Linked DNA regions of Homo sapiens. The protein of the gene in region 2 purifies or fractionates together with the protein of the main gene of each other region. This does not show direct contact. Each region holds a gene or a part of one and is shown on either strand. Other genes may lie near its edges.

The links.
Region 1: the proteins of ZNF26 (region 2) and MTCL1 purify together in Homo sapiens (affinity purification with mass spectrometry; one large-scale study listed by BioGRID and IntAct). This does not show direct contact.
Region 3: the proteins of ZNF26 (region 2) and MTCL2 purify together in Homo sapiens (affinity purification with mass spectrometry; one large-scale study listed by BioGRID and IntAct). This does not show direct contact.

What each region holds. Positions count from the first base shown.
Region 1 is NC_000018.10:8,708,419-8,712,066, reverse strand, and holds part of MTCL1 (microtubule cross-linking factor 1), read right to left. Parts: intron 1-3,648. UniProt on the Homo sapiens protein: Microtubule-associated factor involved in the late phase of epithelial polarization and microtubule dynamics regulation.
Region 2 is NC_000012.12:132,985,042-132,989,197, forward strand, and holds the start of ZNF26 (zinc finger protein 26), read left to right. Parts: upstream 1-1,325; 5' UTR 1,326-1,799; coding exon 1,800-1,832; intron 1,833-2,623; exon of another isoform or gene 2,624-2,727; intron 2,728-4,156. UniProt on the Homo sapiens protein: May be involved in transcriptional regulation.
Region 3 is NC_000020.11:36,776,832-36,780,275, forward strand, and holds the end of MTCL2 (microtubule cross-linking factor 2), read right to left. Parts: 3' UTR 1,001-3,444; coding exon of another isoform or gene 943-1,000; 3' UTR 616-942; downstream 1-615. UniProt on the Homo sapiens protein: Microtubule-associated factor that enables integration of the centrosomal and Golgi-associated microtubules on the Golgi membrane, supporting directional migration. Preferentially acts on the perinuclear microtubules accumulated around the Golgi.

The DNA.
Region 1 (3,648 bases), on a different chromosome or scaffold from region 2:
TGGCTGCTAAAAGCATTTTCAAAATAGGCTCATAAATGCCAACTGATTAAATCCTCCTGAAAAGCCTGTGGAAACAGAGAACATAATTAATATGTTGACAACGAGCACTCCGGCTTGTCTGACTGTCTCCGAGCACTCGAGCAAAACACAGTCTTGGCAGCCTGGCAGGGAAGGAACACACCAGCGCTTTACCAAAGTCCTCAGCATTAAGAAAGTGCCTGGGTTCAACCTACAACATGGGAGAAAATTTTTGCAACCTACTCATCTGACAAAGGGCTAATATCCAGAATCTACAATGAACTCAAACAAATTTACAAGAAAAAAACAAACAACCCCATCAAAAAGTGGGCGAAGGACATGAACAGACACTTCTCAAAAGAAGACATTTATGCAGCCAAAAAACACATGAAAAAATGCTCACCATCACTGGCCATCAGAGAAATGCAAATCAAAACCACTATGAGATATCATCTCACATCAGTTAGAATGGCAATCATTAAAAAGTCAGGAAACAACAGGTGCTGGAGAGGATGTGGAGAAATAGGAACACTTTTACACTGTTGGTGGGACTGTAAACTAGTTCAACCATTGTGGAAGTCAGTGTGGCGATTCCTCAGGGATCTAGAACTAGAAATACCATTTGACCCAGCCATCCCATTACTGGGTATATACCCAAAGGACTAGAAATCATGCTGCTATAAAGACACATGCACACGTATGTTTATTGCGGCATTATTCACAATAGCAAAGACTTGGAACCAACCCAAATGTCCAACAATGATAGACTGGATTAAGAAAATGTGGCACATATACACCATGGAATACTATGCAGCCATAAAAAATGATGAGTTCATGTCCTTTGTAGGGACATGGATGAAACTGGAAATCATCATTCTCAGTAAACTATCACAAGAACAAAAAACCAAACACCGCATATTCTCACTCATAGGTGGGAATTGAACAATGAGATCACATGGACACAGGAAGGGGAATATCACACTCTGGGGACTGTCGAGGAGTAGGGGGAGTGGGGAGGGATAGCATTGGGAGATATACCTAATGCTAGATGACGAGTTAGTGGGTGCAGCACACCAGCATGGCACATGTATACATATGTAACTAACCTGCACAATGTGCACATGTACCCTAAAACTTAAAGTATAATAAAAAAAAAAAAAGTAAAAAAAAAAAGAAAAAAGAAAACAGATTAAAAAAAAAAAAAAAAAAAAGAAAGCCTTCCATACCAAAATTCAAACCCCTCCTTTATCAGACATTGCCCTAGACTACTCAAGCCTAACATAGACTAGTTCCCAAGCTTTACTCCCTGCCCCCATTTATTGCTCCTTTATGCTACAAACATGATTGCAAGAGGGAAAATGTAATTTTTAAAATTCACTTTGGTAAAAGGGATTCCAATGATTTCATTACCACCTTAAACTTTTGTGAAAAAAAAAAACTCATCACTTTAAATTATTAAAGTGTATATTTAACCATTATTGTCATCCAGGTACACTTTCAACAGTTTTGTTTCTATTAAGGCTGTAATTATTTTATAAGGAAACATTAAATATTTACCATAATTAAAGAGAAAAAAAAAAAAAAAAAAAAAGAAAGTGCCTGGGTTTTATGAGAAGCCCAGGCCTTTGGATAACTGAAGTGCTCACCTGAATTTCTGAATACTTCCAAATGTATTTGAGTTTATCAGAGGTCAAAGGACAACAAGAGTGCTTTTCTGTCTGTGTTTTCACACAAAAGCCAGCTACCTGGATTGATTTTGCATTTTTCACCTAGTCACCCAGGCACCATTTGATGAAGGTGGAGAAGGAACAGAAAGCAGAGTCAGGGACGACCAAATTTGCTCTGTTACAGCACAACACAAGGTGTCCGCTTCTCTGTTGACACTGACTATTTAAAAAAATACAGGCCAGGCCGGGCGCGGTGGCTCATGCCTGTAATCCCAGCACTTTGGGAAGCCGAGGCGGGCAGATCACCTGAAGTCAGGAGTTCAAGACCAGCCTGGCCAACATGGTGAAACCCTGTCTCTACTAAAAATTCAAAAACTAGCTGGGCGTGGTGGCGGGCACTTGTAATCCCAGCTACTCCGGAGGCTGAGGCAGGAGAACTGCTTGAATCTGGGAGGCGGAGGGTGCAGTGAGCCGAGATCACGCCACTGCATTCCAGCCTGCACGACAAAGCAAGACTCCGTCTCAAAAAAAATAAATAAAAATAAAATAAAAAATACAGCAGCCTGGCTAAAAGCCAAGATAATTCCACTTAAATGTCCTGATCCGAAGAATATCCTCCTAAGGTTTTGCTGGACTTATTTTTCTATTGAATTGGGCTTTGGTCATTCTAGTTCAGAAACTGTCACAGTCTTGTACAACAATGATGACAGCACTTACTTGGAATGCTCCAGAATATAGCAACGTAAAATTTGTGGGCCGAGCCTCTTATCAGATACATTGGAATAGATGAATGCTATACCTAATCCTGAGAGTTAGTTCTGTGCAGTGCTCCCTAACAAAGCAGCAGGTCAAGGACGTACTTTTATCTACCCTCTTTAAAAAGTACCCCACGAGGCACAGAGGCTCAAACTTGTAATCCTAGCACTTTGGGAGGGCAAGGAGGGAGGATCACTTGAAGCCAGGAGTTCAAGACAAGCCTGGACAACATAGCCAGACCCTGTCTCTATAAAAAAATTTAAAAATTAGCCCAGCTTGGTGGTGTGTTCCTGTGGTCCCAGCTACTTATCAGGATGAGGCAGGAAGATCACTTGAGCCCACGGGTTCAAGGTTGTAGTGAGCTATGATCATGCCACTGCACTCCAGCCTGGGCCACGGAGCAAGACCATCCCTTCAAAAAAAAACCACAAAAAACGGAAAAAATACCCCTGAAAATAACAAAAAGAGAAGTTTTGATTTATAAAGGGCACACGCTAACCACCACTGCAAAGGCATGACTACTGCCTCTGCCACAGGGGGTCCCTGAAGCTCTGGGCCCAATTTTGCACATGTGGGCAGGCTCCACGACCTGTAGAAAAGTCCATTAGGATCCCTGCGTTTCCTTCCCGAATTGAACTATTGTCATTTAAGCTTCTGAGTGGCCAAATGAGTACCTCACATGCATACACGCAATCATCTGGTTTGCTAGCCTCCTTCACAACCCTCTTCTCTCCCCTGCTGTCGGAGGAACAGTGGGGAGGTGGCCTCAGGCAGAGTAAACGGATGCAAGTGACACCTTCTCCACAGTAAATGGCAACTGAACAGTCCCCACAACTGAAACACTGGCAGTGGGATTTATGTGACCATTCGTACACAGGCTAGTGGAGAGACGGGCATGACGGCCCTCTCACCTGAAAAGAAAACAGAGGGCCCCTAGAAAAGCTCACCACAAGGAACATTTTGAGCTACGAAAACAACTCAGAAGCAGTGTGCTCGGAGGAAAGCAGCCTCGCTGGAAATAGGGCTGCATCCCGGTGCAGTAAAATGGGCAGAGGCTCTGGGGAAACGCAGGTGCCACCTCTTACTCACTCTATGACCTTGGCCAAGTCATTTCTGTTTTAGGTTCTCAGCATCTCCGTCTGTGAAATACTAGTTATGATCATGATACCACCACCACCACCCTATGTTGTTGGGAAGATCCAGTGAA
Region 2 (4,156 bases):
TGTCTTTTGGATAAAAGCCATTTTAACTGGGGTGAGATAATATCTCGTTGTAGTTTTGATTTGCATTTCTCTGATGATCAATTATATTGTGTACCTTTTCATATACCTGTTTGCCATTTGTATGTCTTCTTTTGAGAAATGTCTATTCAGATGTTTGGCACTTTTTTTTTTTTTTTTTTTTTGAGACAGGGTTTCACTCCTGTCATCGAGGCTGGAGTGCAATGGTGCAATCTCGGCTCACTGCAACCTCCACCTCACGGGCTCAAGCAATTCTGCTGCCTTAGCCCCCCAAGTAGCTGAGACTACAGATGCATGCCACCACATCCGGCTTACTTTTGATATGTTTTGTAGAGACGAGGTTTCACCATGTTGCCCAGGCTAGTCTCCAACTCCTGGGCTCATGCGATCCACCCACCTCAGCCCTCCAAAATGCTGGGATTACAGACGTGAGCCATCGTGCCTGGCCATTTTGCACATTTTTAAATCTCAAAAGGCCAATCTACAATAGTGGTGTTATCTGTAGGAGTAACTGGGGAAGTTGCGTGTCTTGTGACCAATCCACATCTTAGCAGAATTCAGGCTCCTCTCCTCCCGCTAGCTTGGTGGTCTCTCATAGGTTTTACAAAGGCAGTTGGGTTTTGGAAAAGGGCTATCATTTGAACTATAACCTAAATGTCTTCCAAAGTTAGCTTGGCCTAAGCCCAGGAATAATGAAGGCATCTTGACAGCCAAAGGCGCGCAGAGTTGGGGGTTTGGTTAGATTAGACCTCCCCCACTGCTATAATTTTCTCACTGATATAATTTTTGCAAAGGCAGTTTCATTACTGGTGTGGTTCTATTTATTTGTTTTTCACATCTACTATAGTTTCTCCTTTATGAAGTTGGTTACTGTATTATTTGGTGCACTGATATTCAAAACTGTTATTTAACCCTATGAACTGCAGCTTTTAGCTTTACAAAGCGTCCTTTTTTGCTGTGCCTTCTGGTCTGAACCCTATCTTGTTTGATATCAAAACCTCAGCACGCCTGCGTCTCTGCTGGGGTCGGACTCTGAGTCAGTTCTACAGGCCCTGGGAAACTGGGCGTCCAGGCTCCGAGGATGGTACTGAACCTGGCGCAGCCGTGGGAGGGTGAACCAGGTGCCGCTGGCGGAGCCCCCTCCCAGCCTTCCTTTCCCGTCAGGCTGTGCCCCTCTCTAGATCCGCGGCAGCTGGAAGCCAGGCCTGTAACGAGGGAGCCTTCTCCGAGGATTGTGGGAGATGTAGTTTTTCCGGCGCCTTCGCGTCCTGGCGCATCGACGCAGGACGCACTTCCGCATGCGCCGCACTCCCGGCCTTAGTCGGGTGCGCGCGTGCAGGGCTGTTTCCGGCTTAGACTCAGTGGACCGGAATCTGGCCAGCGGGTGTACCTGGCTGAGTCTCTGTGGCCGCGGAGGCGCGGAGCTAAGCGGCTCGGATTATCCTGGGCAGACCAGAGACTTGACCAGCTAAACACTTCCGTCGGTCCGGGGCGTGGACGGGGCCAGATCAGCCTCCTGCTCTCCCGAGTCAGGGCCACGGAAAGGCACAAATCCATCCGTGCGACTCCTGGTACCCAGACCGGGAGGTTGTCTAGTCACGCGCGGTCTGTGTTGGGCGAGAGCTGAGGAGCCGGCGTCCCTGCCAACGACTCGGCCCCGGGACGGTCAGGAGCCTGGGGCCCTGGTCCCGCACCTGTCTTCGGGCGGACGCATCCCTCACGGTCTCTCCGCAGCCCGCGGGTCCTGCCCCCGCAGGCAGCGCGCGAACGTGGGCGTGGGGATGGCCACCAGTTTCCGGACAGCTTCGTGCTGGGTAAGTAGAGACTTTCCGTGTTTAAAATTCGACTGGATACTGAGGGTGGCCACGTTAATCTCTTCAGGGTTACTCCGGGAACTGAACTCACATTCAGCTGTAATTGTGTGCGTAGTTTACTAGACTACCCTCCCCACCAAACCAAAGCGCCTCTGAAGCTCGCCCAAGCTCTGGCCCTGCAGAAACGTGCCTGTGGTATTCTGTGACGGGCAGTTATACTGCACTTCATGGCCAGCTGCGGGCCCTGAAGTCTGAGGATCCTCCATCATTTCATGTTTTCTACACAAAGTTGTCTTATGGAGACCCTTAGAACTTAGCTGGAGAAATGATCAGTTCCTCCTTTTTCGTTTGGCCAAATGCTTGTTTATGGAGTGTCCTTTTGTCTGCTGGACTCTAAGGCTGGTGCTGGCAATGCAGAGATAAATTATGTATGTTCCTAATTTTAGAGGAGCTTTGGTTTGGTGGAGAGGGTAGTCTAGTGAACTATGGACGCAATTACAGGTGAATGAATAGGGAGAAAAGGCTAGGAGCGGAGCTCGAGAGTCCGAAAGGTAAGGGGCGGGCCAGTGGATCATCGGGACTTTATGAATTATTGATGGAGTGAACCAGAGGGGAGTCTTTACAAGTGATTTGATTGCCAAATCCTTTGCCCTCGGTGAGTGGTGTTGACGACGTTGCCGGATGTGGTGCTCTACCATTGAGCTATACAGCCGGAGACTAGGAATGCTATTGGAAGAGGGACCCTGGGAATGACTTTCGCAGGTGTTGAATATCCAATGCCTGTATTTCAGCCTGTAACTCACATGGGAGGTCTAAACTGGAAATACATAAAGACACCTTATTGTATTCGTGGAAGCTCAGAGTGTGACCAACTGGAACCCTCAAGAGGACCGAGGTGAGGACTCAGGTTAATGAAAGGAAAGGACACACGGTGGAGAAAGGCTGTTGTGCTAAAGAAACGAGAGAAAGTTAGGAGTGGATTTCTCCCCCTGTGAGTTTGTTCCTTTGTCAGAGATCAGTTGACTATATTTATATGGGTCTATTTCTGGGCTCTTTATTGAGTTCTATTGATCTATTTGTTGTTTCACTAATACCACACTGCCACACTGTCTTGATTTTTGTAGCTTTGTAATAAGTCTTTTTTTATTTTTTTGAGACGGAGTCTCGCTCTGTCGCCCAGGCTGGAGTGCAGTGGCGCGATCTCGGCTCACTGCAACCTCTGCCTCCCGGGTTCGAGCGATTCTTGAGCCTCAGCCTCCCGAGTAGCTGGGATTACAGGCACATGCCACCCAGTCCGGGTAATTTTTGTATATTTTGTAGCGATGGAGTTTAGCCATGTTGCCCAGGCTGGTCTTTATAGTAAATCTTTTGTTTTTTTTTCAAGGCAGGATCTCACTCTGTTGCCCAGGTTGGAGTGCAGTGGAACAGTCACAACTCACTGCAGCCTCGAACTCCCGGGCTCAAGGGATCCTCCACCTCAGCCTCCTGAGTAGCTGGGATTACAGGCATATGCCACCACATCAGGCTAATTAAAAATTTTTTTTTTTTTTTGTACAGATAGGGTCTCACTGTGTTGCCCTGGCTGGCCTGCAACTCTTGGCCTCAAGCACTTCTTCCTCCTTGGCCTCCCAAAGCATTGGTGGGATAACAGGTGTGAGCCACCATGCCCAGCCTATAAGTCTTGAAGTCAGGTTCATTCTCCCAAATGTATTCTTCTGCTTCCGTATCCTGTTAGCTAATCTAAGTCTTTTGTCTGTCTGAACTTTATAATCAGTTTGTCAACATCTGCAAAATAACTTGCTGGGATTTTAACTGACAGTGCATTCAATCTGTAGATCAAGTTGGGAAGAGCTGAAGTCTTGAATATTGAGTCTTCCTATCCATGAACATGTTATATCTCTCTATCTAGTTCTTAGTTTTCATTCAGCAGTGTTTGGTAGTTTTTCTCATATAGATTTTATATAGTATCATTATATATTTTGTTAGACTTACACCTAAGTATTTAATTTTTGTGGGTGCTACTGTAAATGGTATTGTGTTTTTTATTTCAAATTCAGCTTACACCTGTGTACAGGAAAGGGGTTGACTTTTGTATATTAACTTTGTATCCTGCAACCTTGGTATAATCATGTAGTTCCAGGAGTCTTTCGGTGAATTTTTTTTTTTTTTTTTTTTTTTTTTTTGAGACAGAGTCTCGCTGTTGGCCAGGCTGGAGTGCAGTGGCACAATCTCGGCTCACTGCAACCTCCACCTCCTGGGTTCAAGCGATTCTCCTGCCTGAGCCTCCTGAGTAGCTGGTACTACAGGCATGTGCCACCACGCCC
Region 3 (3,444 bases), on a different chromosome or scaffold from region 2:
CCATGTTGTGAAGGCACGCAAACAGCCTACAGAGGTCCACATGGTGAGGAACTGAGGCCTCCTGCAAACAGCTAGCAATGACTTGCCAGGCATAAGTAGCTACTTTGCAAATGGGTCTTCCAGCTCATCAGGCATTCAAATGACTGTAGCCTGACTGACAACTGACTGCAACCTCCTGAGACCTTGAATCAGAACTGCCCAGCTCCCAAATTCCTGACCCATAGCATCTGTGGGGTATAATAAATGTTTCGGAATAATTAATTACGCTTCAATAGACAATTGACACACACCTAAAAGTGTCTTTTTTTTTTTCATAAAATTGTTAAAGTCTTTTGTAGAAAAGTTCAATTCTATTTTTCTTCTTTTTGAAGACTGCATTTGTTTCTCAGTGGTCATATCACACTGTGTGGGAGACGCTGAAGTATCAGCAGGCAGCAGCCAGAACACCTGGTGGCCCCTCCCAAGTGACTCCAAACCAGCCAGCTGGCTGTGGCCTCCCTGGGCTCCCCACTTCCCAGGCAGCTGGGAGTGGGGAAAAGTTAGGTTTCAGATCCGCTGGGGCCCCCACCCACCTCATTAGAAAAATCAGAGAGGAGGCCAAGTCCACAGCAGCTGTTCATATGACATACTTTATTTCCAATCTACAACCATTAAAAACGCTTTATAAGTTTACACTGTACAGTTATTCTCATGTCTGAAATAAGACACAGGGGCAGGGAGAGCTGGTGGATTGGACTGCAGTTGTCCTAGCACCCGATCCATCCTAGGAAGGAGCCTTTTGAAGACAGAAGTGGAAAGGAGAGAATAGTGGACAAGAGAGGTGGACAGTTGGCCCAAGGATGCCCTTGGTCCCTTCCCTCCCATGGGCCTTGCCCTGGGGGTCCCCCAGGGCCCATGACTGCAGGACCCTCACCAGGAAACCAGGCTGAGTGGGAAGGGGGTTCACAGTATTGGCGGGGGCTGGGGAGGGGCCAGGATGAGGAGGAAGGGCAGCTTCTGGCTCTCTTCCCAGCTGCTGGGGGTTGGAGCTGTTTTTTGGCACTGTCTACAAGGTATCCCTGGGGTTGGGAGGAGGAGGAACTGGGGATTTAGGATGCTTTCTTTGTGGAGTTAAGATTTCTTTCAGTTTGAAGAGGCGCTATCTGGCCTATGGTGAGGTTCCCAAGGGAGAAACAGTCAGGGTCTTCTGCCTCCTGCCTCCCCAGGACTCCCACCCCCTCCCTGGCTGGCACCATCCACACAGCCTTTTGTAAAACCAAGACAAGTGAGAGAGGTGAGCAGGAGCAGGGAAACAAACAATGTGTGCTTTCTCCAGGCCCTTCAACTTCTCTTCCTCTTCCAAGAGGAGCGACTATAGGGTTGGTTTTTGTTGGTGGTGGTTCCCAATCTCAGGAGTCCAGATAAGGCTGGTGTTTTCCACCTGTTCTTGGCCTAGCCAGTCCCAGTCCCTCCCCAGGCTCTACTAATGGCTAGCCCAGATCAGCAGTTGGCATATTCTTATGCGTCAGAATCATTTGGAGGGCTCCTTAAAACCCCAGCTTGTAGGGCCCCACTCCACAAGCTCTAATTCAGTGGGTCTTGGGTGGGGCTGCTAATCTGCACTTCTATCAAGTTCCCAGGTGATATTCCTGCTGCTGGAATGCAATACAAGAACCACTGGCTGAGAATGGTGCCCGCAGTCACCTCATTCTGAGCAGCCTGGTGTCTCCTGGGCAGCACTAAGGAGCTGGGCCACAGCTGGCAAAGCCCAGCCTTGGGGCACCACATCACCTGGGAAGCTGCTGGAAATGGTCTTGGGGTGAGTCCCCCGTGCAGAGAAGTAAACTAAGGCACAGAGATCAGTGGCAGAGCTGAGAGAGGAGCCAGGATACCAGGGCCCAGTAGAGAAAGGATGGGGCTGCAGGACCCTACAGCATGAGGGGTGCTCTAGGGACCACAGGGCCATCCTGGTGCTCATCACAGGATCACAAGACTGGGAAGGTAGGAGAAGTGAAGACATCTGCCCAGACCTGGGCCAGGTTTCCAGATTGCCAGCTGAGGTCCCTCTTCTTGGGAATGGTTTGAGTGGCTTCCAAATAAAGAGTGACAAGGCAGCCAGCCCTGACTGCCTCAGCCCTTCAAAGATGTTTAGAGAAAACCAAAGGTCCCTTCCTCAGGGCATGGTGTCCAGAAAGCTGGTGAAGGGCAGGAAGGGAGGGGAGCAGGGCCGTTGGGATAGACAAGCAGCAGAGGAGGCTCCAAGGAGGGTGAGGAAGGAGTGGCAGGGCTGGCATTGGAGAGAAGCCCTGAGCAGGAGACTTGGGCCCAGCATCATGTCCTCAGTCCCCTCAGGACTTGGGTCTGTATATTTTGCAAACTGCAAATGCTGTTGGGTTGGGAGGGGTAAGGCATAGAGTTGGGGTGAACTGTAGATTCTGCCAGGACAAGCAGCTCTGAGAGTGGTGAGGTCCAGAGGAGAATGGAGAGGATGGTTGGATACTGAATGGACAAAGAGATGGATCAATGACCAGAGACAGGGAGAGAAGAACCTGTCAGGCAGCACCTGCTTTACAGTCAAGGCCATCTGGGCCTGGGCAGGGCAGGGGAGGAAAAAGGAGGGATCCAAGCCCCCCCCACCCACCACCACACACACGCCCATTGCAAAGTGCTGGGGCTGCTGCTGGCAGGCTGCTTACAGAGAAGACAGTGTGGCTTAAGGGTGGCACCGGGGGGTTGCTGGGGCAGGGTGAGCCCAGTGAGAAGGGCTGGCAGGGCTGGTGCCTCCTGATGCATTGGAGGAAGAGGCTTTTTTTTGTGTGTGTGAGAAAACACAAAATAAATAAACACAGAACCAGGACACCACCACATTTGAGAGCAAATATCAGAGTTGGGAAACCACAGACGCGGACAGGAAGGCTTCCCTGGTAGGAAGCAGGGGGACAAGAAGCCAGTTACTGAGGTTACGGGAAAATCCGCACGAGGCAGCAGTGCTGGGAAGAACATCCTGGGAGGACTGAGGGCTGAATACTATAGTGAGCTCCGGACCCAGAAGAGGAAAACCTGGCATGGACCAGGGCCACTCCATTTGCTGGCAGGAACCAGCCAAGGAGAAGAGGAGGCAGGAGGACAAGAGGCTTTGGAGGGAGATGATAAAGAAAGAATGGGTGAGTGGTGGGAAGCAGACTGAGCCCAGAGAAAGGAAGGGGCTAAACCAAGATTACAGAAAGTCAAAGCAGTGTCTCATTCACTACTGGGGATGCAAGACCTGTTAGGAGTCAGGAAACCTGGGTTCTGGTCTTGGCTCTGCCTCTGGTTTGCGATGTGACCTTGGGTGAGCCACTGCCTTCTCTGGGCCTGATTCCTCATCTCAAAAAATGAGGGGGCTGGACACAAAAGGACAAATACTATATGATTCTACTTAAAAGAGATACCTAGAATAGGCCAATCCACAGAGAAAAAAAAAAA